Homo sapiens: one gene and its partner. The protein of the gene in region 1 interacts with the protein of each later gene in a pairwise test. Each region holds a gene or a part of one and is shown on either strand. Other genes may lie near its edges.

Region 1 (16,613 bases):
TCCAGGATGGGCAACAAGAGCAAGATTCTGTCTCAAAAAAAAAAAAAAAAAATGTATAGCCTATCACTAAATCAATGTCATTTCTCTAAACCAGTGAGAATTCCTAACAAACACCGTTTGTAATCACTCCTCTCCTGATTTGTCCTTTTTTCTTTAAAAACTTGAACTTCTCCTATGCTCTCCAAAGTACTTCCCAGTGTTTCCCAGGGCTACAGTCCTCAACCTTGGCCCCAGTACACTCTCTACATTCATTTTGCTACAGTTTCTTTTTTTAGGTTGACAATCCTCAAGGCTGACCTTCTGACAGGGTACGATTCAAGGTCACTGGGAAGGAAGCCCAAACCATCTCCCTTAGAAATCCATCCTGAAGTTTCTGTTGTCAGAGAGACATTCTCTCAGTTCAAAGCTTTTCCTTGTTAGGAATCTGCAGTCAGAATGCAAACACCCCGGAGTAGTTAGCGCTCATGGAGGATCAGTACTTCAAGCTATGTCACTTTATCACACTGTTGAACTCAGTTTCACAAACAGGTAGTGGGAGGGGCAGGGAGAGATGAGCATCGTCAGCCGCTGCGGTGGTTTGGAGCACAGTTTCTGGAGCCCAGGAGTGTGGGCTCGAAGCCTGGCTCTGCTGGGCTGTGTGGCCTTGGGCAACTCCCTGAGCTTCTCAGTTCCTTCACCTTTAGAATGGGGATAATGGGCCTGGCCTGGTGGTCCATGCCTATAATCCCAGCACTTTGGGAGGCCGAGGCAGGAGGATGGCTTGAGCCCAGGAGTTTGAGACCAGCCTGGGCAACATAGTGAGACCTCGTCTCTACGAAAAAATTTAAAAACAAGGCAGGAGTATCTCTTGAGCCCAGGAGGCTGCAATGAGCCGTGATTGTGCCACTGTACTCCTGCCTGGGTGATAGAGCCAGACCCTGCCTCAAAAAAAAAATTTTTTTTTGAGGATAATGATACCACCACAGGAATAAATGAGTTCACTGGTATAGAACACTTAGGACCATGCCTGGTCTGTAGTAGGTGTTACAAATGGGTTAATTAATCCATTAATTACAAATGAATATCAGTGAGGACCCGGAGAGCACAGAGGGGTGTCAGTTGCTCTAGGATACTCAACTAGTTGCTGGTGGAGCCACTCCACAAAAATGTGTCTTTATTTTCCAAAGCACTTCGGCATCTTTTTATTGAGGTGGGGAACTTTATTCAACAATCCTTTGTTTTTTTTTTGAGACAGAATCTCACTCTGGCTGGAGTCACGCAGGCTGGAGCGCAGTGGCACTATCTCTGCTCACTGCAAACTCTACCTCCCAGGCTCAGGCGATCCTCCCACCTCAGCCTCTAGAGCAGCTGGGACTATAGGCACGGTCCCCATGCCCAGCTAATTTTTGTACACTTTGTAGAGACCAAGTTTCGCCATGTTGCCCAGGCTGGTCCCAAACTTGTGGGCTCAAGCAATCCGCTTGCCTCGGCCTCCCAAACTGATGGGATTATAGGCCAGAGCCACTGCACCTGGCCCTCAATTCTTATGTAGTTGTAAAATACCTTGTTGTACCTTTTTCTTTTCCTAATCCATTTTATTTTTTTTTCTTTCAGACCAACAGTCTTTTCTTCCTGGCAGAAAGTCCTTGGTGCACATCTGATAGATGTCAGTGTTTGCCCTCTACATAGGAGAAAAGCAGGGCTGAGTGCAGTGGCTCAGGCCTACAATCCAAGCACTTTGGGAGGCTGAGGCAGAAGGCACACTTGAGCCCAGTAGCCCAAGACCAGCCTGGGTATAGTGAGACCCCGTCTCTTCAAAATATTTAAAAATTAGCCAAGGGTGGTGCTACATGCCTGTAGTCCCAGCTACTCGGGAGGCTGAGGTGGGAGGATTGCTGGAGCCCCGGACTTCAAGGCCGCGGTGAGCTATGATCCCACCATTGCACTCTGGCCTGGCCAACAGAGTAAGACCCTGTCTCAAAATTAAAAAAAAAAAAAAAGGAAAAAGAAAGAAAAAGAAGAGAAAAGGCCAGTGAGGCCACTGCCACACAACCACTGAGGGGCAGGCAGCTGGCTCCATACTGCCAGACGCCCTCCTCCCCGGACCGCGCAGCCTCTGTAGCCTTCGCCTGCCCCCGCATTTCTCCTTGGCTCCTACCTCCCCTCTCGGCTGCACTTAATGATTTCCCGGATTCTTACAGACCATTGGGATCGCTTCCTTCAGAGTGTTTTGGGAAGCCCAGCACGCCCCAGCTTTCTCCCCAAGGGGCAGGCTGCTCTCAGGAGCGGGAAGCCCATCCCCACCTTCATCCCTCTGGCCCAGAGGAGGCTTCCTTCCCTGGAGGGCTGAGGCAGCAGGCAGCTGGGTCAGCCCATGCCTCTCGCATGTGGCCATCTGAATCATTTCCTTTCGCAATGTGTTACTCAGTTTCAGGGCCTGCCACGTGGGGGTGTTTCCATTCCTTTCTGCAGCTGGACTTGGTGGACGTGGGGAACGTGGCAGTTGTGCCTTTCTCTGGACAGCGGAGGACCTCCCTGGACCCCAAACACCTAAGTCCTCATCACCTCCGTTTCTTTTCTATAAAATGGAGGTGATGACACTTGATTTGTCTAACACTTTCTTAGTTGTAAGACAAACAAGATGACCCAAGCGAAGGGGCTGAGTAGACTCCAAAGCAGTGCCTCTCAGTTGAGGGCTGGGAGTGGATTCTGCCCTCTCGGGGACATCGGTTGTCACTCCTGGGGGAGGGAGCTACTGCGTCTAGAAGGTAGAGCCAGGGACGCGGCTAAACATCTTATAACACACAAGACAGCCCCTACAACGAAGCGTTAGCCAGTGCCAAATGGAAATCACGCGGAGGTGGAGAAACCAGCCTAAAGAATGATTGAAAAGTAGTAACATTTACGATGGCCGGGCGCGGTGGCTCACACCTGTAACCCCAGCACTTTGGGAGGCCGAGGCGGGCGGATCACCTGAGGTCAGGAGTTCTAGACCAGCCTGGCCAACATGGTGAAACCCCATCTCTACTAAAAATACAAAAATTAGCCGGGTGTGGTGGTGCATGCCTGTAATCCCAGCTACTTGGGAGGCTGAGGTGGGAGGATCGCTTGAGCCCAGAAGGTGGAGGTTGCAGTGAACCTTGATCGCACCACTGTACTTCAGCCTGGGTGACAGAGCAAGACTCTGTGTCAAAAAAAAAAAAAAAAAAAAGCGAGAGAGAGAGAAAGAAAAGTAGTAACATTTACGGGGAACTCACTCTGTGCCAGGTACTTTACATGCATTATCTCATTTAATTGCTCCAGCACCCTATGAGGCGGTATGGTTATTACTCCCATTTTACAAATGAGAAAACTGAGGCACTGAAGAGTTAAAGAACTTACCCAAGTCCCACAGCTAGAATAGGATGGAGCAGGAATGAATCCTGGGGGCTTCTACTTCCCAGGCCCACTCTTTTTTTTTTTTTTTTTTTGAGATGAAGTTTCGCTCTTGTTGACCAGGCTGGAGTGCAATGGCGTGATCTCAGCTCATTGCAGCCTCTGTTTCCCAGGTTCAAGTGATTCTCCTGCCTCAGCCTCCTGAGTAGCTGGGATTACAGGCACCTGCCACCACGCCTGGCTAATTTTTGTATTTTTAGTAGAGATGGGGTTTCACCATGTTGGCCAGGCTGGTCTCGAACTGCTGACCTCAGGTGATCCACCCACCTCAGCCTCCCAAGACCCACTCTTAATCTATGTGCTACAGAGCATGTTTCCAGTCTGCCTATGGTGAGGGTCTCACATCCATGCCTGAACAAATGCTGTTTTGCAAAAATGTGCACTATCCTTCCTCCACTCCAAATATAAGCAGATGCTATTGTGATGAATAAATGCAAATTCTTATAAAGTGTTAATAAGTCAGTGTTACTTTTCTGACATTATGCATTTTCCTCAATCAAGGGAATCTAGAAAGTAAACTGCAATTACGTTGCAGGAGTCCATGAAAATCTTTCCTCTCTAAAACAAGGGAGCCTCAGGATCTAAAAGGCAGGAAACCTACGTGACAGATCTGAACTAAATTCAAATCAAGCAACGCCTTTTCTGAGTTTATCTTGCTTTCATGCAGCTCAGCTATGTTACTTGCTGAAAAAATTAACTGCCCTGAAGCCAAAAGCAAAACGAAAGCAGAGCGAAACATCTCACCAACCATAGAAGGATTTTGCAGCTAACATGTTTGGTTCAAGTTGGGACAAATGAATCCTTTGGGTCTCTTCCATTCAGTTACAGATCCTGCTGTTAAAGGCTGTTCCAGTAGAATGATTTCCACAGAGCACTTGTCTCTAAACCTCTCTCCTCCCTATAAAAGACCACCTGCTGGACAAGACTTTCCCCCTCTCCCCACCATAATCCCTCCCAACACAGAGTTCCCTCTGCAACACCAGGAGCCCCCCAGCGACTCTCCAGGAAGGCTGCACAGGCCCTGGCAGCCAAGCCTGCTCTTGGCCCCTTTCCCTGAGCAACACACTCACCCCTTCCTTCATGCTCTGATCCTGTTGCTCCATGCTTGCTCTGGAAGGGCAGAGTGCCGCTCACCTCCTTTTAGCCAAAGTAACGCGTGCACTGAATGGAGAGAGAAGACATTCTGGGTGCACTTTGGCCATGCCAAATAACAGCCAATAGCATTTTTATAGCCAGATTAAGTCAGAATAACCCTTTCAGGAACCTGGTCTTCCTTTCACTTCTGCTTTTAAATGAAACGTCTGGGGTTTGGCTAAGTAAGTGGGTGCCCCCTGGGGACTGCAGGCCCAGCATTGTCCTGATGGAACAGTCTACGGTATTTCCCCATTGCTAAAGTCTCTACCAGTCAGGCTCATGGTGAATGACTGGAAGGGTTATTTCTGTCAGGAACGCATGGCAAACAACAGCTGTCCTCCACCCTACATGACACCAGGTAATCTGAGGGCAACAGATTGGGCCACTAGAGACCTCAAAGATGCTCTCCCTGCCAGGAAAACTACAGTCAAGTGTCTCTTGGTGGAGAGTCAGTTTTGCCCAAGTCACCGTGTAATACTGTTTGGGGAAAGTTTCTCATTTTCTGTTTTTTTTTTTTTTTTTTTTTTTTTTTGAGACGGAGTTTCGCTCTTGTCCCAGGCTGGAGTGCAGTGGCATGATCTCAGCTCACTACAACCTCCGCCTCCCGAGTTCAAGCGATTCTCCTGCTTCCACCTCCTGAGTAGCTGGGATTACAGGCGTGCACTACCACGCTCGGCTAATTTTTATATTTTTAGTAGACACGGGGTTTTGCCATGTTGGCCAGGCTGGTCTCGAACTCCTGACCTCAAGTGATCCACCCTCCTTGGCCTCCCAAAGTGCTGGGATTACAGGCGTGAGCCATCGTGTCCGGCCTCTTATTTTCCATTTTAAGGAGCTCAGAATGACCTAGGGATGTTACTTTCTGTGTATTCATCACTACTGGGAAGGTGGTAAATACCTCGAACCCCTTTCCAGGCAGGGCAGGGAAAATGAGTCACACCTGCTGGTCCGGGTCCGGCCATCTCAAGGCCAGGCCACTGTCAGCCCCCCATGTTTGGCACTCATTCAGCTGCCACAGGGCACACCAGCGCAAGTGGCCAAAATCCAAAGTCTCACAAGTCCCACAGGTTTTCATCTTTACAGAACATACTCCCAGTTCTATTTGCTGTGGCGTAAATCCAGTTACTTTAGTGATTGATTCTGAATCTCATGCATCTTTAAACAAGCAGAGACTGGGAGCCTGTGTTAGGCACTGTTCCTTGCATTAGCAGCAAATCCCCAGGGTTGCTCAGGGTGGGAGACTGTGAGAAGCCTAGCAGCGTGGCCGTCTGTGTGTGTGTGTGTGTTGGGGGGTCGGGGGGGTCCCTATTCACAAGGGAGAACTCAGCATTCCCTTTCACCAGCTACTGCCTGTCTTTTTCTTCTGCGTATCACTGTCCTAGCACACTGACTTGTGACTAACGCATAGCAAGACCAGAGGTTTCCAATTATTTCAAAGATCTAGAAAAAGTTTCCAAAGAAAATGCACTTTAATTGCAGGGGTAGGGTGGGGAGAGGAAATCAACGATGGGGGAGTGAGGAGACGGGTACAGGTGTGCAATCCAACACAAAGAAGAATCCGGCCGGGCGCGGTGGCTCACGCCTGTAATCCCAGCACCTGGGGAAGCCAAGGTGGGTGGATCACCTGAGGTCAGGAGTTCGAGACCAGTCTGACCAACATGGTGAAACCCTGTCTTTACCGAAAATACAAAAATTAGCCAGGCATGGTGGCAGACGCCTGTAATCCCAGCTACTTGGGAGGCTGAGGCAGGAGAATAGCTGGAACCCGGGAGGCGGAGGTTGCAGCGCACCTAGATCACACCACTGCACTCCAGCCTGGGCGACAGAGCGAGACTCATCTCCGTCCCCCATCCTCCCCCCAAAAATAATCGTCCAAAGTTTGTAGTCATCAGTCATGTCAAGTGCATGACACCTGCTTCTATCTAGGCCCAGATCTTCCACTTCTCCCTGCCTTTGGGCGAGGGGGTAACTAAAACCGGGGGTCGCTGGGGGGGACGCGGACACTCCCAGTCCCCGCCTTGACGGCCCAGCCCGGGGAAGCGGGGACAGTGAGCCAGGCCCTCAGGCCCAGAGGGGATCATCCCGGGAGCTGCGGGCCGCAGTACCCGGTTCCTGCCAGTGACAGGGCGTCGCAAGCACAGCCATGGCGTCACCAACGCTCGACCCGTGCTTCCGCCCTGGAGGGAGCCGAGCGCGGGGACGGGGGCGTGGCGGGAGGCCGTCATGACGCCAGGCTGCGGGCCGCTCAGCCAGTCCCTCTGCCTGGCGGGCCTGCGGGCTCCGGGTGGGTCCTGTCCCTGCCCAGGACCCCTCTGCCTCAGCCCGGATCCCCCTCGGCCTCTGCCTCAGCCCGGGTCCCCCTCGGCCTCTGCCTCAGCCCGGGTCCCCCTCAGCCTCGGTCCCCCTCTGCCTCAGCCCAGATCCCCCCCAGCCTCAGCCCGGGTTCCCCTCCGCCTTTGCCCGAGTCCCCCTCAGCCTCACCCGGGTCCCCTTCAGCTTCTGCCAGAGTCCCCCTCAGCCTCGCCCGGGTCCTGCTTCTGGCCAGGGACCCCCCAACCTTCGTGGCGGGCGGACCAGCCTCCAGGCCCCTGCCTCAGGCCGCCATGAGGCCGAGGCCTGCAGGCTCCGCGAGCAGGGCGGGGTGGGAGACTGTGAGAAGCCTAGTGGCTCAAAGATGGAGGAGGGGGATGGCAGCGGTGAGGTGGGACTGGGGGGAGGGGAGTGGTCCTGGCAAACCTGAGGCAAGAGGATCGCTTGAGCCCAGGAATTCGATCATGCCACTGCACTCCAGCCTAGGTGACAGAGCAAGACCCTGTCCCTAGAAATAAAAAAAATTAAAAATTAAAGTTCCATCTGGATGTCCAGAGGTGAACTGATGAGGGGACAAGAGACCGCTGGATTTGGAAGTGGGGAGAAGGAGCAGTGGAAGGTCTTTGCCGTAGCCCAGGTGAAAGAACAATGTGACTTGGACCAGCATGGGGATGGAGAAGACAGAAGTAGATACACTTGAGGGATATTTAGGATGGAAAATTGACAATCACTTGGTGATAGGATGGGGGAGAGGAAATAGGAGCGTTTCTGTTACTGTTATAATAAAACACAACTAGGCCAGGCGTGGTAGCCTGTAAACCCAGCACTTTGGGAGGCTGGGGCAAGTGGATCACTTGAGGTCAGAAGTTCGAGACCAGCCTGGCCAACATGGTGAAACCCCGTTTCTACTAAAAATGCCAAAAAAAAAAAAAAAATTAGCCGGTCGTGGTGGTGTGCGCCTGTAATTCCAACTACTTGGGAGGCTGAAGTAGGAGAATCGCTTGAACCCAAGAGGCGGAAGTTGCAGTGAGCTGAGATCGCACTACTACACTTCAGCCTGGGTGACAGAGCGAGACTCTTGTCTCCAAAAAAAAAAAGTAAAACAGAAATAAAAGTTACTTTTCTGAATCAGAATGAAAAGCAAATGTTTTATATAAGAAAAATTTAACCAGGGCAAAATATTGGGTTAACACCATACCACAAAGCAAGCTGGCACATCTCCGGGCTGTTCTGTGACCAGACAATGATACCAGGACTTCAGTCACTACTGGCCTCACCTCTGCTAGGAATGTTCTAGAATTTTAAAGTTTTGCCACGGGCCTCTTTTGTACAGGCTGCTAATGGCTTCTCCTCCCCATCCATAAATCCATTTGGTCAGTGCCTCTTCTGTAGTAATAGAATTGGGAACAAGACCTGCGGCTGCCCAAAATAAAGACATTTCCCCATTGCTCTTGCAGTCAGTACAGACATAAAGTTCCGCTTAATGCAGTGTATGCAAGATGCCATATGGCAGGCAGCTTCCAGAAACTTTGCTCTCTTAGCTTTGCCTATTTCTCCATCCTGCTTCCTGGAATGTAGATGCCACCAGCTTGGGCCTTGAGATTGAAGCCCCACAGGACAGAGCACCAAGCTAGGAGGAGCTGGGGCCCCTTACCCTGTGGAGCACCATCCCAGCTCCCCACCACCAACTTGACTTAGTAGGGAAGAAAAATACTTCATTTTGTTTTCTGTCACTTGCAGCTGAAACCGTTTCTCACTGGTAGAACTATTAAATGGATGCCTGAAAATCTGTTAGGACAGAAAACAGGAAGATATTCTACCAAAGCCCCTGGTGGTGCAAATGGTGGAGTCTCTTCTGCCTCACTCAGTACATGCTTCTGTACTGTGAGTTAGTTAGTTCATTTGCAGATGGTAAACAAGAGAATGCTGGCCGGGCGCGGTGGCTCACGCCTGTAATCCCAGCACTTTGGGAGGCCAAGGCAGGCGGATTACAGGAATTCAAGACCAGACTGGCCAACATGGTGAAACCCGGTCTCTATTAAAAATACAAGAATTAGCCAGGCTTGGTGGCGGGAGCCCGTAACCCCACCTACTCAGGAGGCTAAGGCGGGAGAATCGCTTGAACCCAGGTAGTGGAGGTTGCAGTGGGCTGAGATCAAACCACTGCACTTCAGCCTGGGTGACAGCGCAAAACTCCATCTCCAAAAATTAAAAAAAAAAAAATACGTCAGTAGAATGCAGAAATTGTGTTTGTGTTCTTAGCAGCATGTTCATATAATAGTTTGAGGTGGTGGTGGAGCGGAGGGGGGCAAGCATTCTCTCAATGAAAGAGCAAGGCTTAGCAACTGTAAACCAAAAAGTATCTGAGACAGGTCTCAATCAATTTAGAAGTCTATTTTGCCAAGGTTAAGGACATGCCCAGAAGAAAAAAGCAGAATCTCAGAAATAGTCTGTGGTCTGTGCCTTTCTCCAAAGATGATTTTGAGGGCGTCGATATTTAAAGAAAAGCTGGCTGGAGGGGAAAGAGGGAGAGTATGGTAACCTACATGTTACAAGAGAAAAGGTACAAGTAGAGGAATCAGCAATTACATGTCTGTCTCTTGCTCAGTAAATCAGCACTTTACATAAAGTGAGGTGAACACAGAGTAGCTACTTGTGGGGATACTTAACCTTTTATCTGTCGCTGTCTGCTTAGGAACATAAGGAAAGACAGCTCCTTGCATGACTCAGCTTTCAGCTTAATTTTGTTTTTCCTTTTTGGCAGAGTGAATTGGGGTCCTGAGTTTTTTATTTTCCTTTACACAACATATGAAGACCTTAAAGAGAAAACGCTGAAAATTCTGCAGGGCTCTGGGCTGGTTTTGTGATTTCAAGAAGCGCTTTCTCCTGTAATCCCAGCATTTTGGGAGGCTGAGGCAGGAGGATCGCTTGAGCCCAGGAGTTCGAGACCAGCCTGGGCAACACAGTGAGACCTTATCTCTACAAATAATCAAAAATTATCTGGGTGTGGTGGTGTGCACCTATAGTCCCAGCTACTTGAGAGGCTGAGGCAGAAGAATTGCTTGAGCCAGGAACTTCAGGCTGCAGTGAGATGTGACTGAGCCACAGAACTCGGCTTGAGCAACAGAGTGAGATCCCATCTCAAAAAACAAAACAAAAAAAAAAAGAAGTGCTTTCCAAGCTTTCTGTGGAGTCCTAATTAGGGAAAAGGAGTCAGGTTGGCAGCACCAGGGGAAAGCAAAAGAGAAAGCAAATAAGCTATAAATCTGCCTCTCTTCATGGTCCACAACAGATAAACAAAGAGGAAGCAGATGAGTTATAGGTCTGTCTGTGTTTATGTCCCAGGAAGTGTAGCCCTCCTGAGCAAATAACACACATAACTCACAGACTTCCCGTTTCACATCAAACACCTCAATTTATCAAACATCCCGGTTGACAGAAGAAGGCAGGTTAGCTCCTGCAGCCGTGGCGTAATCCAACATCCCAAGAGCCATCCTATAAAATCTCCAGCAAGCCTGTTTCCTTGCAGTCCGCTCCTCTTCTGCTGATACCGCCCGTTGCCTCCTTGCAACATATTTTCCTACTTTCTCTAATAAATCTATCTTTCTCTACCTACAACTGTCTTGGTAAATTCTTTTACTCCCGTGCCACTGGCCCAGACAGTTGTCACTCCCCTGTGACCCTTTCAATAATCTTAAACTAAATGGTGGAGTTAGCAGGACAGTTGAAGATATTTTCATATGTAATTTGTTTGTTTTAATTGATTATAGCCTGCATTGGATTTTCAATTTTTTTTTTTTGAGACGAAGTCTCACTCTTGTCCCCCAGGCTGGAGTGCAATGGCATGATCTCAACTCACTGTAACCTCGGCCTCCCAAGTTCAAGTGATTCTCCTGCCTCAACCTCCCAAGTAGTTGGGATTACAGGCACCTGCCACCATGCCCAGCTAATTTTTGTATTTTTAGTAGAAACGGGGTTTCACCATGTTGGTCAAGCTGGTCTCGAACTCCTGACCTGAGGTGATCCACCCACCTCGGCCTCCCAAAGTGCTGGGATTACAGGCGTGAGCCACCGCGCCCGGCATTTTTTTTTTTTTGAGACGGAGTCTCACAGTGTTGCCCAGGCTGGGGTGCAGTGGCACAATCTCAGCTCACTGCAACCTCCACCTCCCAGATTCAAGCGATTCTCTTGCCTCAGCCTCCCGAGTAACTGGAATTACAGACGCACGCCACTACGCCTGGCTAATTTTTGTATTTTTAGTAGAGGCGGGGTTTCGCCATGTTGGCCAGGCTGTTCTAGAACTCCTGACCTCAAATGATCTGACCGCCTCGGCCTCCCAAAGTGCTGGGATTACAGGCGTGAGCCACTGCACCTGGCCGGATTTTCAATTTTGATGAAACAGCTCTACTAGGAGTGAAAGGCCCAAAGACCCTAATCTGAGAAGAGAAAGCAGAAGTTCCCCCAGGCGATGGAGATCTGCCCTAGCTGCTGTGCTTATCAAGACTGCATTTATACTTGTTTGTGTTCAGATTGTAAAACCGCATAGGATTCAAGTGGTCCTTGCCAGTCATTTCTCCCCTTAAGCCCTGTTATTTTGATGTGCCACTTGGCAGAATGTCATGTTCTTTAGGAACAGGTATATCACATGATAGCAGAAATGCCTATATGTGCCTTTGATGCACAAAACGGGGTTGCTATCAAGGTGGTGTCTATATTTGGCTTGCTTGATTGATGGGGAGAGGAAATGGCTCTTGGCCACACCCATTTATTAATCTAAAGGAAAAAACTGAGGTGAAATCCATACAAGTAGAGAGTTTATTTGGGCCAAGTTTGAGGACTGCAACCCAGGAGCATAGATTCAAGTTGCCCTGAATTTATGTTCCTATCAGCAATAGTTACAAGTGTGGTGTTTTTTTTGTTTTTTTTTTTGAGATGCAGTCTCACTCTTGTTGCCCAGACTGGAATGCAGTGGCGTGATCTCGGCTCACTGCAACCTCCGTCTCCCGGGTTCAAGCGATTCTTCTGCCTCAGCCTCCCTAGTAGCTGGGATTACAGGCGCCTGCCACCACGCATGGCTAATTTTGTATTTTTAGTAGAGATAGGGTTTCACCATGTTGGCCAGGCTGGTCTCGAACTCCTGACCTCGTGATCCGCTCGCCTCAGCCTCCCAAAGTGCTGGGATTATAGGCATGAGCCACCATGCCAAGCCTTACAAGTGGGTTTTTAAAAGAAAAAAGGAAGGCTGGACATGGTGGCCCATGCCTATAATCCCAGCACTTTGGGAGGCTGAGGCAGGCAGATCGCTTGAGCTCAGGAGTTCAAGACTAGTCTGGCCAAAATGGTAAGATACCGTCTCTACAAAAATACAAAAATTAGCCAGGCATGGTGCTGCATGCCTGTAGTCCCAGCCACTTGGGAGGCTAGAGTGGAAGGATTGCTTGAGCCTGGGAGGTGGAGGTTGCAGTGAACTGAGATAGCGCCACTGCACTCCTGCCTGGGCAACAGAGTCAAAACCTGTCTCAAAAAAAAAAAAAGCAAAAAAAAAAGAACACAAAAAAACAAAAAAAAAACCCCCAGAAAAGTCTGGACGCAGTGGCTCACGCCTGTAATCCCAGCACTTTGGGAGGCTGAGGCAGGTGGATCGCCTGAGGTCAGGAGTTCAAGACCAGCCTGGCCAACATAGTGAAACCCCATCTCCACTAAAAATACAAAAAAAAAAAGAAAAAAATTAGCTGGGCTTGGTGGCAGGCACCTGTAATTCCAGCTACTCGGGAGGCTGAGGCGGGAGAATCATTTGAACCTGGTTGCAGTGAGCCGAGATCATTCCATTGCACTCCAGCCTGGGCAACAAGGGTGAAACAGGGAGAGAGGGAGGGAGGGAGAGAGGGAGGGAGGGAGGGAAAGAAGGGGAAGAAGGAAGGAAGGAAGGAAGGACAGGAGGGAGGGAGGGGCAATGGGAGTGTTGGTCCTGATCCAGACCCCAAGAGAAGGTTCTTGGACTTTGTGTGAGAAAGAATTCAGGGTGAGTCCATAGAGTAAGGTGAAAGCAAGTTTATTAAGAAAGTAAAGAAATAAAAAAAAGGCTACTCCACAGGCAGAGCAGTGGCCTGGGCTGCTCAACTGATTATATTTATAATTAGTTCTTGTTCTTTGCTAAACAAGGGGAGGATTATCCACTAGTTTTCTGGGAAAGGGGTGGACAGTTCCCCGGAGCTGAGGGCTCCTCCCGCTTTTAGGCCATATAGGGTAACTTCCTGAGGTTGCCATGGCATTTGTAAATTGTCATGGCACTGGTGGGAATGTCTCTTAGCATGCTAATGTATTATAATTAGCATATAATGACAGTGAGGACAACCAGAGGTCACTTCCATCACCATCTTGGTTTCGGTGGGTTTTTGTGGCTTCTTTACCACATCCTTTCATCAGCAAGGTTTTTGTGACCTTGTGCTGACTTCTTATTTCATCCTGTGACTAAGAATGCCTAAACCTCCTGGGAATGCAGCCCAGTAGGTCTCAGCCTCACTTTACTCGGTCCCTATTCAAGATGGAGTCGCTCTGGTTCCAATGCCTCTGACAGGAGGCGGGAAAGGGAGAGAAGACTTTGTATTGGGTACAGTGTACAGCGCTTGGGTGATGGGTGCACCCAAATCCCAGAAATTACCACTAACGAATTTATCCATGTAACCAAGAACCACTTGTATCCCCAAAAACTATTGAAAAACATTTCATTTAAAGAAGAGACAGTTCTTTACCAAGAATTTACATCAAAACCATGTAAACTGTAGATCCACACTACATTGTTCTTTGTACCATGAATTCCAAAACCCTGAAGAAAATGGGTGAGGCAGCTATCAGGAACAAAGTGTCGTCAAATAGCTGCCCTGGACATGGGTGGGGAAGTGACTCAAGTTCCCACTCACGTCTCTCTGGGCCTAATAAATTTTGCGAACCTCACAGGGCTCACACTGCTCAGCTGTTTTTCTTTTCCCACATTCCAGATTTAGATAAGGAAGGAATCATTAACAGATTCAGAGTGGACCTGACCACCCCACAGTGCCCTTGCTTTGCTTTTGGCACAGGCAGTGTATCTCGTCTGGGGAAGGGAGAGGAGTGCATCCAGTCGGTTGACACAGGACCTCCCAACCCCAGTGCCCACGCGCGGTGTCTCCCTCTTCCTCTTCTGTGAAAAGCCACACCCCACCTTGGGCATGCCACCTGGCCGCCGGAACCCAAGTCTGCAGGGAGGGTCCAGAAAACGTGCGCCTTCCAAGTTTATCTTCCTTCAGGAGCCAGTTCTGTATTCTGTCCTCACTTGAGCTCCCTTCCAAGCTCCTACTAGATGTCCCCGAGGCAGAGAGATTGTTGATCACGCTCTGATATGCCTGGGGTGTAAACTTCAGAGACATGACAAGGTGCCTATGTGTTTTCTCACCAAGAACAGAATTTGACCTCGCCTATCAGAGAGTGCACGTGCACAGGAAGGGCGTGCTCCTGGAGAAGCACAGGCAGAAGACGTGAAAGCCGGAGCAGCAGAGGCTCTTCAGGACCCAAGGGGCTTCTGTCGGTTACACATTACCCTGGATAGACACTCCTCTTTTTATTTTTGATTTATTTCTTTATTTTGTTGAGACAGAGTCTCATTCTGTCACCCAGGCTGGAGTACAGTGGCGTGATCTTGGCTCCCTGCAACATTTGCCTCCTAGGCTCAAGTGATTCTCCTGCCTCAGCCTCCCAAATAGCTGGGATTACAGACGTGAGCCACCATGCTTAGCTAATTTTTTGAATTTTTAGTAGAGACGGGGTTTCACCATGTTGGCCAGGCTGATCTCAAACTCCCGACCTCAGGTGATCTGCCCACCTTGGCCTCCCAAAGTGCTGGGATTACAGGCGTGAGCCACCACGCCCAGCCGATATCCCTCTTTTTAAAAACATCATAACATAAAACTTATCATTTTAACTGTACATTTTTAAATAAATGTACCAGTTGAGTTGTGGTAAGTATATTCACATTGTTATGAAACAGATCTCCAGAACCTTTTCATCTTGCAAAACTGAAACTCCGTCCCCATTAAACAACTACTCCCCATTTTCCCTCCCCAAAGTCCCTGGCAACCACCATTCTACTTTTCTGCTTCTACGAATTTGGGCACTCACAATACCTCATGTAAGTAGGATCATGCAGTATTTGCTTTTTTGTAACTGATTTCCGAAGACTTAGAGCATGTCTTCATGAGTCCTTCATGCTGTAACATGGAACAAGATTGCCTTGCTCTCTGAGGCTGGATCATACTCCACTGTGCACACACCACATCTGGTTTACCCATTTATCTGTCAGGTTACTTGGGTTGCTTCTATTAATACCTTTGGCAATTGTGAGAAATGCAGCTATGCGCATGGGTGTACAAGTATCTCGCTGAGCCCCCGTTTTCAATTATTTTGGATATATACCCAGAAGTGGGATCACTGGATCACATGATAATTCTATTTTTAATTTTTTTTAGGAATTACCGTTCTGTTTTCCACAGTAGCTACGCCATTTTACGTTCTCACCAACAGTATATAAGAGTTTCAATTTCTCCACATCCTCACCAGCACTTGTTATTTTCTGGGCTGTGGTTGCTGTTATCGTTGTTTTTGGTAGTAGCCATCCTAACAGGTGTGAGGTGAGCTCTCATTGTGGTTTTGATTTGCATTTCCCTAATGATGAGTGACGTTGAGCATCTTTTCACATTCGTGTTGGCCGTCTGTACATCTTTGGAGAAATGTCTATTCAAGTTCTTTCCTAATGAGACCACTCTCTTTGACCACAGAAAATGAGACCAGGCAGGCCATAAATAATATCCAGTGATGTGCAGGAGCCAGCTTATATATAATGTGAAAACAAATAATTCAAAATCAAAGCTGTTGGAAACTGGAATTATTTTGAGTCTTAAAGGAATGTGCTTATGGGACCTTTAATCCCTCTCGCCTGGGGCGATAGGTGTGAGTCACTCCGCCTGGCCTTGAATAAACTCCTTTAAACTGGATTCTGATCCTTTCAATTATTTCAGGTTGCCAATAACCTCATCAAAATGAAAAAGTGGTGGGTGAGGTTGCTCACGCCTGCAAACTCAGCACCTCAGAGGCTGAGGTAGGCAAATCACTCGAGCTCAGGAGTTAAGACTGGCCTGGACAATGTGGTGAAACATCATCTCTACAAAAAATACTAAAAACAAATAAACAAACAAAAAAAATTAGCTGAGGGTGGTGGCACATGCCCTTGTTCCCAGCTACTCAAGAGGCTGAGGTGGGAGGATCACTTGAGCCTGACTGGTCAGGGCTGGAGTGAGCTGTGATCATACCACTGCACTCCAGGCCGGGAAACAGCATGAGACCTTGTTTCAGAAAAAAAAAAAAAAAAAACCCCAAAAAAAAAAAACACGACCAAAACAAAACCCACACTTTTGTGCCTCAAAAGACATTATCAAGAAAGTAAAAAGATGAGCTGGGTACAGTGGCATGTGCCTATATTCCCAGCGACTTGGGAAGCTGAGGCAGGAGAGATCAGGAGTTCAAGTCCAGCCTGGGCAATGGAGGTAGACTCCTTCTCTTAAAAAAAAAAAAAAAAAAAAAGTAAAAAGACAAGAGACTAGAAGAAAAATTTTTGCAAATCGTATATCTTATAAGGGTCTGGTATCCAGAATATATAAAGAACTCTTACAACTCAACAACAAAAGACAAACAACCAAATTCAAAATGCGCAAAACACTTGAATA
Region 2 (16,676 bases), on another chromosome or scaffold:
GCAAAGCAAAGAATGAAGCAACAAAAGACCAAAAGCAGAGATGTATGGAAAACAAAAGTACACTCCACAGTGTGGAAGCAGCCTGAGCAGCAGCTCAAGGGCCCAGATACAGAATCTTCTCCGGTCCAAATATCCCCTAGAAGTTTCCCATTGGCCACTTCATGCTCACCTCATGTAAATGAATTGGGAGCCCGCCATCAGTCTGATTGGTTGCAGAAAGCAGCCAACCAGAGGCTGAAGTGAAGTTACAAAGGTCACTATCATGTGCAAACATCTGATTGGTTGCAGAAAGCAACCAATCAGAGGCTAGGTTGAAGTTACAACGTTACACTTATTTGCAAACGAAGACATAGCTGGCAATCAGTCTGATTGGCTGCAGGCAACACCCATTCAGAGGCTGGAGTGAAGTTGCAAAGATGCAAACGAAGACCCTACCAGCAATCAGTCTGATTTGTTGCTCAGTCTTATTTGTTGCCAACAGCAACCATTCAGAGGCTGAAATGGTTACAGAGTTGCAAACGAAGACTCCACCCACTGTCTGATTCGTTGGGGTCAGCCAATTTCCTATGTGTGCGCAGAAAAGGTCAAAGGAAGTAGCCTCTGGTCCTTGTGTTACTTAGGAATGGAAAGTTAGGGTGTTCCTTTCAATTTAGTTCTAGGAAGTCGGTGTGAAACAGCCTTAGGTTCCCTGTCTCCAGACCCTATTCTCCTGCCTCACTGGGATTACAGGCATGAGGCCTAGTAAGATTTTTCGATCACTTCTCAAAGTCCGCTCAAAAGTTAAAAACCCCAGTGAGAAAAGCTTTATAGATTGAGACATATCTATTATTAGAGATGAGAATATTGTTCTTAGAGAATGAGAATAACCATCATTTTTATGAAGAATAAGAATAAAGCAGTTACTAATTTGCATGTGAATCAAAGGAAATTAACTTTCCAGATCTAAAACAGTTACATAACTATGCTGTTAATGAAAAAGGCTTTGTATTTTTCTGGGAGGAAAAAAAGATATGGAAATGGTTCTGGTAAAAATATTGTGTATCAGAATTCACAGTTATAGAAATATATACTATCAGAAAAAGAATATCTTCAAATGGAGTATTAGTCTTTTTCACAGAATTGAATTTTAGTGTGTACGTAATTGGAATATGTAAATGACAGTTTTCTTGTTAGCTTAGGAATTGAACAAAGATCCAACAAAAAATCTAGGTGTACTTTTTTGGGAATGAAGGGATAGAATTTATAAAATGATTCTAAAATTCACCTGGAGAAATAAAGTAATAAAAACTGAAGAAGAGAAGACTGAGGGAGAATTTGCTGTATCAGTAAAAACATATTTATAAAGTTATAGCAATGAAGACAGTGTAGTGGTAATGCAAAAAGGTAGACAGATCATTGAAAAAGAGCAGTAAACCCAGGAGTTGATCTAAGCATATTTGTGTTTTAATCCGTGGTAAGGTAGCTCTTCAGATATTTTGGGGAAGGAAGGGAGTGAATTACTCAATAAATACAACTGGGAAGTTGGTTATTTGCTAGGGAAATAACTAAGCCATTTTTCTTTGTTATACAAATCACTTAAATGAAATTATAGTTCCTTTAATATTTATGTAAAAAAGGAATCGTAAAATGTGTAAAATATAAATATTTGATCTTAAGGTAAAGAAAACCTTTCTAAGCATAAAAGCAAAGAAAGAAAAAACTAGGGCAAAGTGATATAACCCTTAAAACAGAATTAAAAGGCAAATGACAAGCTAATGGAAAACAGTAAAATATATGACAAATTAATTTCCCCTATCTGTAGAGTGCGCTTACATATATTTCATTGTGCTCAGTAGTAAATTGGGGAAATGATATAAATAAGCAATTTACAAAAAGAAGATTCCTGTGTTTCAAAAAATTTTCAATTTAACCTGTAATCAAAAAGAAGAAGAAGAATGGCAATGAGATGAACATTAGTGAGATGCCCCACCAAATCAGATACTATTTCTGTGACTCTTGGGTTTCAACAGGTGACATTTCCTCCAGAGCTGGTAGGTATGGAATACAATCAGTTTGAGTATGTGTATTTAAAAGCCTTGAAACTGTCATACCGTTTAAACCAGTAATTCTACTTTCACAAGTTTGTCTTAAAGTAATCAGAGCTGTATATGAATGTTGATGCTCAAAGATGTTTATTGTTCCTACTATTTTAAAATAGTGATTAATTGGAAATCACCTTAATGTCTAACAGAAAAAGATTGGTTAGGTTAATTATGCTCCTTATAGAATGGACTACTATGTAATCATTTATTTAAGACTTTGGAAAATACAGTGTATGAAATGAAAATAGATTTGTTGAATATTATCCCAGTTTTTAAAATTGTGTGTGTTTGTGTGTGTGCCTGTGTGTGTGTGTGTGTGTGTGTGTCTTGGGAGTGAAATTATGAGCAGTATCTATTTCTTTTACACTTAAAAAAATTCCAGAATTTTTACAGTAGTCATTTATTGTATTTGTAATCAAGATGAAAATCTGAGGCCAGGCGTGGTGGCTTATGCCTTTAATCTCAGCACTTTGGGAGGCTGAGGCGGGCAGATCACTTGAGGCCAGGAGTTCAAAACCAGCCTGGGCAACATGGCGAAACCCTGTCTCTGCTAAAAATACAAAAATTAGCCAGGCGTGGTGGCAGGAGCCTGTAATCCCAGCTACTCAGAGGCTGAGGCACGAGAATTGCTTGAACCTGGGAGGCAGAGTGAGCTAAGATTGCGCCACTGCACTCCAGCCTGGGCGACAAAGTGAGACTCCGTCTCAAAAAAAAAAAGAAAAAGAAAAAGAAAAAAAAAAGATGAAAATCTGGGTGTTCTTTTTAAAAAGTATACTTAAAAGAGTTGAAAAAATGGAATTCTTCTAGCTTGTCTTAAAGAAATGTTTACTTTTCATTTGTTCTAACTTTTTCATTTTTCAGATGGGAAAACTGAGATCCTGAGAAAATTCGTATTCACACAGCTAATTAGTAGCAGCTTTCCTAGCTCCTAGGACAGTCCTTCCTAGTCTTCATGCTACCTCTTCCAGCAACCAGATTTCATTTAGCCAACACAAGTTAATGAAAAATTTTGTTCACAGCTCGAGCTAATCCAAGATATGGGGTTCCATGTCATTTACTGAATGAAATGGATGCAGCTAACATTGAACTGCAAACCAAAAGGTAATTTTAAATTGCTTTTAGAGTTTGACTAGTATTCCGGAGAATAAAGATCTGATTTAGGCCTTAAGCATTCAGTAATGAAAATTAAAAAGAAAAAAAATAGTCAACTTGTTAATGCAAGTGTCTGTTTGGCTGCTGAATTTTTATAGTGAGGGTAACTTTAACTCTGAAATTATCCCTTATGTGTGAGAGTGAATTAAATGGTGACATATAAAACAGCCATTGCTAAGTAGGGATCGAAGCCTAACAAGAGTAGAGAAATCAGTGAGCACATAGTTGGGCTGAATGAATTGTATCCTGGCCTGGCCAGATTATTTCCTTGGGTCCAAAGAGAGCCTGCCATGAAAATCACCCCTCATAGGTAAGTAGTTGTAGCGAACTGGCATGTAGTGAGAGAGGATCAGTGGTGGGCAGATTTTCAAAAGGAGGGAAATATGGATGCTATAACCTATTGAATGCAATGCTGATCTTGGGGGAAAGCCTATGATGGATTCTTACTTAAAGAGATGGTTTGTGAGAACTTTATGATCTCAGCATTCTCTTTTGGGGCCTCACCTTTGACTCTGAACTGCTTCTTTATTTGTGCTCTGTTAGGGTCAATAGGGTATTGGGTTAGGAAAATGGATGTTACCGTGATCTCCTTGTGGACCAAACTGCCTGATTATGTGACAGGGTGTATTTGACATTTTTATCATTGGCTTGGAGCTGGGGGAAAAAAGTACAGTGAATGACACGAGCAAAGAAACAACAAAAACCAAGATACCAAAAAGATTAAAACTTAACAGAGCGAAATATCTTAAGTCTAAAAAATAACCTGCATAAGTGGTCTGGACTAGCAGTTGTTATTTTAAAAAAATAAAAATAAAAAAATAAAAGGCAGAGCCTGAGGGGCTGTCATCAACCCGCACTAAGGTCTTTCGTGTGGTTGTGCTCTCTGACCATGTTCATTGAAGTGTCCTGAAGTACGTGAGTTGCGTGATAAGCCTCATTCCAGCTCCACATTGGTCAGACCCTACCTGTGTTTCGCACTGGCTTCGAGTCAGCCAAGTGGATTCAGAGAAGAGCAGCCAACACCAGGCTGCTGCCAAGGACTTTTAGCCTGGATAATGTGGTCTCGGGAGGTTCATGCTACTGGCTTCAAATATTTCATGGGGCCGGTCGCAGTGGCTCACGTCTGTAATCCCAGCAATTTAGGAGGCTGAGGCAAATGGATCACCTGAGATCAGGAGTTCAAGACCAGCCTGGTCAACATGGTGAAACCCCATCTCTACCAAAAATACAAAAATTAGCCAGGCATGGTGGCACACACATGTAATCCCAGCTACTCAGGAGGCTGAGGCAGAAGAATCGCTTGAACCTAGGAGGTAGAGGTTGTAGTGAGCCAAGATCGCAGCACTGCACTCCAGCCTTGGCGACAGAGTGAGACTCTGTCTCAAAAAAAAAAAAAAAATCATGGGAGAATGTGCAAAATCTAGTGGAAATAAGGATGATAGATGACATGGAAGTAAATCTGCTACTTAACATAATGATGTAAGCAGGTCTCTAGCATTTTGTTCATAACTATAATATAATCTCAGAATTAGAAGATTTCAAGTGTCAGCCTTTGTTCAGAGAAATGGAGTTAACATTGCAGCCTATGTTAAAACAGTTTTCTCTTGGAATTCATGGTGACAGAACTGAATTTTTGCTATTGACTGAAAAATTAAAGTGACTAATTGTGGCACATAGAAGAAAAATTGTTACTTTGGTGGGATGGAGAACTTTATTGTAAGCCAGATATCTTTGGTTTGAGATAAAACACAGTGTCTGTTATAAAAACACAGTATTTATGTATTTTTGTGCCTCTTTAAAGGGCAGAATGTGATTCTGCAAACAATACTTTTGAATTGCATCTTCACCTGGGCCCTCAGTATCATTTCTTCAATGGGGCTCTGCACCCAGTAGTCTCTCAAACAGAAAGCGTGTGGGATTTGACCTTTGATAAAAGAAAAACTTTAGGAGATCTCCGGCAGTCAATATTTCAGGTAATATCGCCTTACTTCCTCTTAATTCAGACATCGAGCACCATCTCCAGCTAGACTCTCCATTTCATTCTGTTTAGGATACAACTTTATTTTTCAAAGCTGCTTAGGAAGATCTGACATCTGCCACTTCATAGAGGGTTGACCCAAATCTTCTCTCCTAAGTCTTTTAGAGAGGCTTTTCTCCACAGCTCCTACCAGCAGCTTTTCAGGTAGACAATCAGGCCTGGTACATTTTATTTGAGGGGAAGAAAGAGTATAAAGTTGTCTCTTTTTTAGAAAATAAATGAAAGCAAATTGCCTTTCAAAGAGAGTGAAAAGATAAAGATGAGCATGTTGTGTAAAACTGAGAACTGCTGAACAAATAAACGCAACTAACTTTATACCCTGTAGTATAGAACAGTATTTATTAATAATATTCTTAAGTGAAGGAAAGTATCTGCTAGTCTAGAGTAAAAACAGTGCTGTAGTCTCCAAGTCATTTTTCTAGGTATGTTTTAATGATGATAGCAACAGCAGTGTTCTTTATTTTACTTACACTGCTTTCATATAAATCATGTGATTTGGTTCTTTAATCTCATGAAGACACATTAGCCCCATTTTGAAGTTGAGGCAGTGTGATTTAAAGAGACTCAATGTCTTGCCTGTGGTCCTAAATCTAGTTGATGGAGCTGGGACTCTGTCCCTCTTCTCCCTACTCTTCATCTAGGGTTTTTTTCTCCTAATCACCCTCCTGCTCCACACTACTTTCTGATCAAGGAAAAGGGAGATAGAAAATGTTAGCTTTTTTGTGTTTTTTCCCAGAAATTAGTTAAATGAATTTTCTGAAAAATCCTATTACCAAAACTATTAGCTTTCTTTCAATTTTCTTCTGCTAAGAAAAGCAAAGCAATTTCCCTTTTAACCTTAGTTGATTTGAAGTTTTTTAAATACTAGATCAGTGTCAGGATTTCTAAAGTTGTCTAATATTTCTGAACTTTTTCATTAGAAATTTATTTCTGAGCCAATTCTGGCACTGTTGATACAGGCAGATGTGGGAATCTGAACCTAGTCTAGGGGGATATTTTAAATGGAAAGGATCTTATTCACTTTGTAAGTGTGAGGTACACTCCAGTCTGTGTGTTTTGGTGTTTTAAGTGTATATGCCTACTAACTATTCTCTTAGAAGGAAGCCACTGACAAGAGGCTAGAAAACTTAATTCACAGCAAACTAATCACTTGTAAATAAGAAGTTTCTTTTTAAGAAAATACCTTATGGTATTGTAGAGAATGACTAGATAGGAATGACTTTTATGGTGATATTATTTTGGTGACCTTGCCACAGTGCTCAGACTCTCAGATCTAGAAACTTAAAGAGCAAAGCCATGGTAATCTATTAAGTAAACTGGTAATGCACCTTTATAAATTTGCAATGGGAGACATTCCTTTCAAGCAGCTAGAAGATGAGTGTGTGCTAGAGTCAGGGCTACATTTCCCTCAACATTGCTAATTCTGCAAATTAGTCTTGCTCTTTTGAGTAAAAATTCCTAGGCTGACATGCTCATCAACTTGCTTTCTGAGAAAAGTGCTCTTCATATATATTAAGCAGAATTGTTTAGATGGTTGTTGTGCCCTTTGTGTAGGCCAGAATTCTTCACTCAGGAATGGAGGAGATTAGCCGTCTTTGGCTTTGACTAATTTAACAAGTGATGCCTTCTTTTCAAGTTTTCGGTGTTGGGTGGGGGTGAGAGTATTCATTTGCTTGCTCTCTGTGTCATCTTCATATGTGAGTTGGCACAGTAACCTGGAAAGGTGATATGTATATGTCACTTTTCAACATTCTCTTTTCCTTCATTAATATTCTTCAGCTGTTAGAATTTTGGGAAGGAGACATGGTTCTTAGTGTTGCAAAGCTTGTACCAGCAGGACTTCACATTTACCAGTCACTTGGCGGTAAGATAAATATGAAAACATAGCAACTCACTCTATATATCTACATTTTTGTCCGGCTCACCTGCGATTTTCTACTCTTTGTCAGTCCTTCCCCACCTACTACTTTCTTAACTAAGTAGATTATCTTCACACTGTAAGTTTTCCAAAAGAAATAAAATATCCACGTTTTAATGTATCCAGTTTATATAATGTGTGAAATTCTTCTAACATGGAAACATTTTATTTTTTCTGAAATTAAGGCTACCTCTACTAAAATTTCTTGAAAAGCTTTAGAATTTTTTATATTGACACATATTGTTGAACAACATAGTTTCAAACCATCTGAATCATATTTATGTGACTTGATTTTCTGCCCAGTTCTCAGCTTCAGATTTTGTAGTAAAACAAGAAATACTTTGAGAGTTTGAAAGCATTTACTTCCTTTAAATAGCAGGAAAACAATGAGAATTAACAGTAGCGGCAGTAACATCTAATTTGGGCCAAAATCTGTAATAGGTGTTTTATGTTAATTATCTCACTTGATTTTCATAAAATTCTTTTATCTCCATTTCATAAATGAGAAAACTGAAGCTGAGAGACTTGAAGCACACAATACAGCTTGTGTTATGGACATATCGGTGGAGTTGGGACCATTCCATGCTTAAGCCTAACTCCTGTTTCCAATGTCATGTGCCTCAAGTACACTTGACCTTTGGATTATCTCTCTTGTCCTGCCACCATGCTCACAAGCTTTTGTCACAACGTTTTAAAGAAAAATTACAATGAAATAATGTCAATAGAATAAAAATAATTACTACTTTTTAAATTTTCCTTAGTGAAAATACTTTTTCAAACAAATATTTGTCTCAGCTCTTTCTTTAGCTCAGTTGTTTCTGATGGTCATGATGAATGGTCTCACTGGTGATCTCTTTCTAGGGGATGAACTGACACTGTGTGAAACTGAAATTGCTGATGGGGAAGACATCTTTGTGTGGAATGGGGTGGAGGTAAAAAAAATTACTGAAGAAATATTCGTGATAATTTTGGATGTTTTAAAAGTCATCGTAATGGCCGGGCATGGTGGCTCATGCCTGTAATCCCAGCACTTTGGGAGGGCGAGGCAGGCAGATCACCTGAGGTCAGGAATTCAAGACCAGCCTGGCCATCATAGTGAAGCCCCATCTCTATTAAAAATACAAAAATTAGCTAGGCATGGTAGCGTATGCCTGTAATCCCAGTGACTTGGGAGGCTGAGGCAGGCGAATCGCTTGAACCCGGAAAGTGGAGGTTGCTGTGAGCTGAGATTACACCACTGCACTCCAGCCTGGGTGACAGGGCAAGACTCCATCTCAAAAAAAAAGTCATTGTAATGAAATTTTATTCAGCCTATGTGAGGGCAATTAGATATTAGAAAACTACTGAAATGCTTGATAAATGTTAGGGACAATCAGTGCTAGTTGTACGCCAAGGAGACATTTCTTGAGCGCCTCCGTTATACCAGGTTGTGCGTCAGATGCTAGATCAAAGGCCAGTCAGTTGATCTGTGTCCTTTTAGGCCCTCGTCGTGTGAAGAACTGCACCATACGTGCTGGAGTAGGGGGTCTGTGCATAGTGCCTGTGGGAATTTAGAAGAGTGAGAATCTATACTGAGTTGGGGAGTGGGGGTGGTTTGGAGGTAGAGAGTGAATTTTCTATCTCTAGAAGGCGGCCAGGAGCACTTCAGCCACTCTGTGAACTGACCTTGGCCAATCTGGCTTCATCACCACCCATGATAACTCATAAATGTCTATCTCCAGTCTATCATAGATTTCTCCTAAAAAAATAAAAGATAAGAAAGTTTCAAAAGAAAAATCTGAAGTTGTTCCTCTGATGCTTAACAGACATTTGTGAAAATTTTATTTTACTTGGAAAAAATGAGGGTTGTTCTCTAAGAGTAATCTTTTACCATGTTATGTTGACGGTGTTGGCAAATATCAGCTGTACTAATGGTTGTCTTGGTATGATTGCAGGTTGGTGGAGTCCACATTCAAACTGGTATTGACTGCGAACCTCTACTTTTAAATGTTCTTCATCTAGACACAAGCAGTGATGGAGAAAAGTGTTGTCAGGTGATAGAATCTCCACATGTCTTTCCAGCTAATGCAGAAGTGGGCACTGTCCTCACAGCCTTAGCAATCCCAGCAGGTGTCATCTTCATCAACAGTGCTGGATGTCCAGGTGGGGAGGGTTGGACGGCCATCCCCAAGGAAGACATGAGGAAGACGTTCAGGGAGCAAGGGCTCAGAAATGGAAGCTCAATTTTAATTCAGGATTCTCATGATGATAACAGGTAACTCGCTAACAAGAGAAAAAGGATTTCTAAAAGTCATTTTAATTACAGTACCACCCAGCAGAACTCTAAAGCTTTATTTTAGTGACAAGAGTTGAATGTTTCTTTATTTCTAGACATTATGTTCTAAATATTGCATACAGGAATGTTTTAGGTTATGTAACTTAGAGAAAAACATGATTTTTTGTAAAGGGACTTTTTGGTAAATGTGGTGAGAAAATAATATAAGTATCCCTGATTTTCTAGACTGTATAGAGTATCAATTAGTTGGCTGTAATGCAAAAGTTATCAAGTGAATTCTGATTAGTGCCAGTTATAAAACCGAAGGAAATTCTCACAGAGAAAACTGAAAATTTTCCTGAAGAAGGTATTAACATTATGGCTAAATTGTTTCTGGATATTTTGTTTCAGGAGACCCATAAGACAACTCATTGTTTCCTTATAATCCGTTCTGTGACTCTTGAGAACCCAGTTGCCCAAATAGAGCAGTTACGTGGCGAATTACCCCCATGAATCCTGTGGTCACATTTAAAGCTGCATCTCTTTGTCATCTATGTCTGTGACAGTACATTGCTGTAGTCAATGTGTCATACACTGTAACTGCAATATTTCCATATATTGAAGACTTCAAGCTCCCTGTTTTCTCAGTGCTACAGATTTACTTAGATTGCAGGATGTCTGTATCATTATTTATAGTGGCTTTGATGCAGAGAAGCAGAGCACTTGTGGACCGTTTCTTTCGTAGTACACTTACCACTATTACTCTTTTGGACAGGGGTTTTGCAGACATTCCCTACCTTGTTTATAAGAACTGTATTTCCTTTATAAAAGGCAGTATGCATTTATTGGGACTGGGGAAATACAAAAGTGAAGACAGAAGGGACCCAAAACAGTATCCGTCTTCTCAGCATGCAGTGTTAATCACTGTTAGCATTTGGGTGCCTTTCTTTTTAAACCTAATAATGATTATTTTGTAGATAAGTAGTTGTATCCTGCTTTCCATTACCCCTGCCCAACCTTGAGATTTGTAGACTCTTTATAAACTGCCTTGAATGGCTACATAGTAATCTATGTGACATTATAGTTTGCCTAACTGTGCTCCTAGGCAAGTCAGTAGGCTGTAGTGGGACCTTGGGCAAGGTATTTCGTCTTTCTCTGCTCAGTCTTCTTGTCTGTCAAATAGGGATAATAACTAGTGCCAACTTCATAGACTTGAGAGGATTGAAAGAGTTGAGTGCTTACAAAGTACACACAGTAAGTGCTAAATGTTTTAGTTAATATATTACGGTCATTGTCATAATTATCATACAGTTTTTCACTATTTTAAAGTAGTCTTCATGGAGCATCTTGTGCTTCATACTTTGTTTTATTTGGGATTGCTAGCTTAAGGTAGGAGCTCAGAATGGAATAACTGCAATAAAGAGTAGAATGATGTTTCAGAGCTCTAATGTACATTCCCAAAGAGGACTTCGGCAAGCCCATTAATGCTTCTGTGTGAATTAGAAAGAAGGCACCTCTTCAGGACCCTTTACTACTATCTGTGGGAAAATGTTAGAACAAGATACTCTACTGCCGGCTGCAATTATAAAACAAAACTCTATGTAGAAATGCAGTATACAATATATATGCCATGTGTGACACTCCTTAGATGTGGCCCTTTTGTGCAGTGTCAGTCTACAGACTGCACATGGCTGCCCTGTTGTTAAATGAAATCTAGATCCAGTGGGGTAGGCTCCTGGCATAGGTGCTCTTTTAAAGCTCCCCTAGTGATTTGCAGGGTGCAGGCAGAAGCCAGCAACTGTTTACTTACAGAAGTTCTCTGTGAAAAATGTGGCAACAAATTATGTAGGTAAATCAAAGAATATTTGGAGTCATGAATATAGACTCTATAGACTACTGCCTAACATTACCCTGCAAAGGTAGCCCACTTATCATAGAGACGACTCAGTAGAACTTGGTCACCTCTAATTAGTCACATTAAGTGACACATGCAGAGTTTTGGAAGTGATGCCTAAGGAAAGGTATTAATTTCTGATCTTTTCTTTTTACCTACAGCTTGTTGACCAAGGAAGAGAAATGGGTCACTAGTATGAATGAGATTGACTGGCTCCACGTTAAAAATTTATGCCAGTTAGAATCTGAAGAGAAGCAAGTTAAAATATCAGCAACTGTTAACACAGTGAGTAGAATATAATTAAAGGTTGGCTGATAGATTTTCAGTTAACAGAATTTTATTTAGAAAACAATACCTTAATCTTTCAGAACAGTTGTCTCAATAGACTTCAGCTCTTAGGAAGTCAGCTTTTTATTTAACATTTGATTATTGCTTGTTTACCTATGTTAGCCCTTAGCATATTTCAAGAAAATACGTGCCTTTTAAAATTTCCTCCAAAGCCTAGAATTAGAATGTGGGAGTTACTCATTTAGTTAGTTCATGGAATTCTCTGGCTCCCACAAAATGAAATTCTTTGGCTTCCTTGAAAATGCTGTTTTCAAGGGTCTTTTCTGTATTTTTTTTAAGCCAAGTATACATATGTTTTGGTTTTGTGTTGTGGACTTCTGTTTTTTAAATTTATCTTAAATTGTTTTACATTATACTCTGTTTTTCTGTAAAGCCAGGTGTTCTTAAAAGGAACTCTTTCAGTTCTCCATTTGAAGACTAGTTTCGTTAAACACCATCTCAGGAAATACCTTTTTATATTTATGTAGTCTCAATTCATTATGGGTTTTTTTTCTATAACAAGTTGAAACTTACTAGAATGTTGTTTTCTTTTATATAAATATTATAATTTCTTAAAGTGTGTTAATATTTACACTGTATGATGAATACACTAAAGTTCAGAAGATCTAGTACCTTGACCCTAAGTGAGAGACTTTGGTGAAGTCCTTTATGACTCACTCTGTTTCTTCTTTTCACAATGTGGGGTGCTGTGGGAGGACAGATTGTCTGACATCGGTTTTACTCCTAAATTTACAAGATTTTGTATCCTAGAGGAAATTAGGTTAAACTGAAAAAGGGAAAGAATCTAAAATAAAGTCATTTAAACAGAAATTTTAAATAGTGCACTCGGGCTGATAGTATACATTTTTATTTATGCTTACTGGCCCCACATTCATCATTCCTGACATAGAGAAATGTGATTGCCTGCAGTTTATTTTGTTTGCTTTCATGAGAAAAGTTACTGGTTTGTCAGCTTATTGCCTTTCAGCTAGTTTCTTTAGTTTCTGTAGTTTTCTACAGTTTCTGTAGTTTTCTGTAGGTGTCCTTTCTGTTCCAATTAACATCAATTTGGTAAAAACTTAACTATGAAGTCCTAAGTTTTTGCTTTTGATCTTATAAAAGGATTTCAGGGATGGAAAAATTTCCAGTGGGCAAAAACTACTAAATGTCAGGTAATTAATATCTCAAATAATTTGTTTATGCACACAGTGACAATCCTCATTTTCATCTCCTCCCATTTTTTACAACTTAGTCATTATTTTATTTCTCTGTTTTAGATGGTGTTTGATATTCGAATTAAAGCCATAAAGGAATTAAAATTAATGAAGGAACTAGGTAATCATTTACATTTTCTTTTCGGTTCTTAGTTTAGCTTAATTTTGGTCTTGAATTGAAGAAAATATAGGAGAATACAAAAAACAGTTTAGGGAGAACTCACATACCTACCACCCAAAATGGACAAATATTAACATTTTGTCATATGTTTGTTTTTGTTTGAAACATTATAAATGAAGTTAAAGTCCCCTGTGTTCTCCTCCTCAGACCTATTCTTTCTCTCCTTCCCCAGATACAATGAGTATATCTGATGTGGGTGTGTATCTAGTCCATGTATTCATGTTGTACTATACTGAATGTATATTCTGCAAACTCACTATTCACTTACCATTAGGCTTTCTGTGACAGCCTTATTAAGATATAATCTACATACCATAAAATTCACTCAGTTTAAGTGTTTAATTCAGTAATCATCAGTAAATGTGTAGAGTTCTATAACCATCACCACAATCCAGTTTTAGAATACTTCCATTACTCCAAAAATATCCCTGTACCCATCTGTATTCCAAGCCCCTGGCAACCACTAATCTGCTTTCTGTCTCTATAGACTTTATTTTCTTAATGTTTAATGTAATTGGAATCATAAAACATATAGTCTTTTGTGTCTGGCTTCTTTCACATAGCATATCATTTTTGAGGTTAGTCCATGATTTAGTACGTATCAATAGCTTGTTCCTTTGCATTGCTGACTAGTCTAGTATTCCATTATATGGATAGTATCACATTTTGTTTATCCTGGACAAACATGAATTGATAGACATTTGGATTGTCTCTACTTTTGTGCTTTTATGAATAATGCCACTATGAACTTTTACACATAAGTCTTGGTGAGGAGATATGTTTTCATTTCTCTTGGGTACATGTACCGGATTGGAATTGCTGGGTCATTTGCAAATTTATGTTTAACTTTATAAGAAACTCTCGCACTATTATCCAAAGTGACTGAACCATTTATACTCCCACTAGCAGTGTGTCAGGGTTGCAGTTTCTACATGTCCTTGTCAATCTGTGATTAATTGTGATTATCTTTTTTTTTTTTTTTTTTTTGAGACAGAGTCTCACTCTGTCAGCCAGGCTGGAGTGCAGTGACACGATCTCCGCTCACTGCAACCTCCGTCTCCCAGGCTCAAGCAATTTTTCTGCCTCAGCCTCCCAAGTAGCTGGGATTACAGGCGTGTGCCACCACGCCCAGCTAATTTTTGTGTTTTTAGTAGAGACAGGGTTTCACCATGTTGGCCAGGCTGGTCTCAAACTCCTGACCTCAGGTAATCTGCCCACCTCGGCCTCCCAAAGTGCTGGGATTACAGGCATGAGACACTGAGCCCAGCCATCTTTTTTTTTTTTTTTTTTTTTTTTTTTTTTAGAATCTGTTACTGGTTTGGTTTTGACTTTTAAAAAAAAAAACATATTTTGAGCACATTTTTTATTGTTATTTTTTCCATAGGTTATTGGGGTACAGGTGGTGTTTGGTTACATGAGTAAATTCTTTAGTGGTGCTTTGTGAGATTTTGGTGCACCTATCACACGAGCAGTATACACTACACCCTATTTGTAGTCTTTTATCCCTCATCCCCCTCCCACCCTTCCCCCCAAGTCCCCAAAGTCCACTATATCATTCTTGTGCCTTTGTGTCCTCATAGCTTAGCTCCCACGTATCAGTGAGAACATACGGTGTTTGGTTTTCCATTCCTGAGTTACTTCACTTATAATAATAGTTTCCAATCTCATCTAGGTCACGGCAAATGCCATTAATTCATTCCTTTTTATGGCTGAGTGGTATTCCATCATACACACACACACACACACACACACACACACACACACACACACACCACAGTTTCTTTATCCACTCATTGATTGATGGGCATTTGGGTTGGTTCCATGATTTTGCAATTGCAAACTGTGCTGCTATAAACATGCATGTGCAGGCCGGGCACAGTGGCTCACGCCTGTAATCCCAGCACTTTGGGAGGCCGAGGCGGGGAGACCACAAGGTCAGGAGATCAAGACCATCCTGGCTAACATGGTGAAACCCTGTCTCTACTGAAAAATACAACAAAAATTAGCCAGGCGTGGTGGTGTGCGCCTGTAGTTCCAGCTACTGGGGAGGCTGAGGCTGGAGAATGGCGTGAACCCGGGAGGCAGAGCTTGTAGTGAGCCGAGATCGCGCCACTGCTCTCCAGCCTGGGTGACAGAGCGAGACTCCGTCTCAAAAAAAAAAAAAAAACAAAAAACCATGCATGTGCAAGTATCTTTTTTGTATAATGACTTCTTTTCTTCTGGGTAGATACCCAGTAGTGGGATTGCTGGATCAAATGGTAGTTCTACTTTTAGTTCTTTAAGGAATCTCCACACTGTTTTCCATAGTGGCTGTACTAGTTTATGTTCCCACCAGCAGTGTTGAAGTGTTCCCTAATCACCATATCCACACCAACATGGCCATTCTACTGAATGTGAATTAGTATCTTAATGCATGTAAATTTAGCAAGAACTCAAAATCATATACAGAAATTCATTGCCTTTTTACCTACCAGCAACAACAACAACAAAATCGACATCAAAATTAAGAAAACATTTATAATAGCATAAAATATTATGGGATACTTAGACATAAATGAACAAAATATGTGCAAGACCTGTACACTAAAAACTAGAAAATACTGCTGTGAGATATTTAAGAAGACCTGAATAAATAAAGCAATATACAACATTCACAAATCAGACAACACAATATTCTTTTTTTTTTTTTTTCAATTCGAGACGGAGTCTTGCTCTGTCCCCAAGGCTGGAGTACAGGGCAGCAATCTTGGCTCACTACAACCTCTGTCTCCTGGGTTCAAGCGATTCTCTTGCCTCAGCCTCCCGAATATCTGGGTTACAGGCACCTGCCACCACGTCCAGCTAATTTTTCTTTTTTTTTTTTTTTGAGATGGAGTCTCGCTCTGTCACCCAGGCTAGAGTGCAGTGGTGCGATCTTGGCCCACTGCAACCTTTGCTTCCCGGGTTCACGCCATTCTCCTGCCTCAGCCTCTCGAGTAGCTGGGACTACAGGTGCCCGCCACCAGGCCCGGCTAATTTTTAGTGGAGACAGGGTTTCACCGTGTTAGCCAGGATGGTCTTGATCTGCTGACCTCGTGATCCGCCCGCCTAGGCCTTCCAAAGTGCTGGGATTACAGGTGTGAGCCACTGCACCTGGCCAGATGATACAGTATTCTTAAGAGGATAATTCTTCCCCATTTGATGTGTAGATTTAATATATTCTTACACAGAATCTTAACATTTTTTAAAGAAATTGACAAGCTGACTCTACAATTTTCATGGAAATACAAATAATTTAAAGTGGCCATAACACTTTTGAAAACAAGAGAACAAAGTTGGAAGAGTTACACTATCTGATTTCAAGGCTTACTCTAGACAGTGTATATTGGCATACAGGTAGACATATAGAGAGGAGGTCAGCAAACTATGGCCTACAACCTGTTTTTTTTCAGCCAGTGGGCAAAGAATGGTTTTCGCACTAGTAAAGGGCTGTTTAAACAAGAAGCATGTGCAACAGAGATCACATGTGGCCCGTGAAGCCTAAAATATTTACAGTGGAACTCAGAGAATCTAGAAATAGGTGCGTAGTCATTGACTTTCAACAAAGGTGCCAAGGTATTTTCATGCAGAGAGATAGC

What was found.
Region 2: the proteins of SLC2A5 (region 1) and USP40 interact in a two-hybrid assay, tested with the Homo sapiens proteins (one study listed by BioGRID).

What each region holds. Positions count from the first base shown.
Region 1 is NC_000001.11:9,065,020-9,081,632, forward strand, and holds the start of SLC2A5 (solute carrier family 2, facilitated glucose transporter member 5), read right to left. Parts: upstream 4,617-16,613; 5' UTR 4,518-4,616; coding exon 4,485-4,517; intron 1-4,484. UniProt on the Homo sapiens protein: Functions as a fructose transporter that has only low activity with other monosaccharides. Can mediate the uptake of 2-deoxyglucose, but with low efficiency. Essential for fructose uptake in the small intestine.
Region 2 is NC_000002.12:233,515,937-233,532,612, reverse strand, and holds part of USP40 (ubiquitin carboxyl-terminal hydrolase 40), read left to right. Parts: intron 1-3,100; coding exon 3,101-3,182; intron 3,183-5,034; coding exon 5,035-5,206; intron 5,207-7,050; coding exon 7,051-7,135; intron 7,136-8,050; coding exon 8,051-8,121; intron 8,122-9,123; coding exon 9,124-9,443; intron 9,444-11,498; coding exon 11,499-11,622; intron 11,623-12,941; coding exon 12,942-12,999; intron 13,000-16,676. UniProt on the Homo sapiens protein: May be catalytically inactive.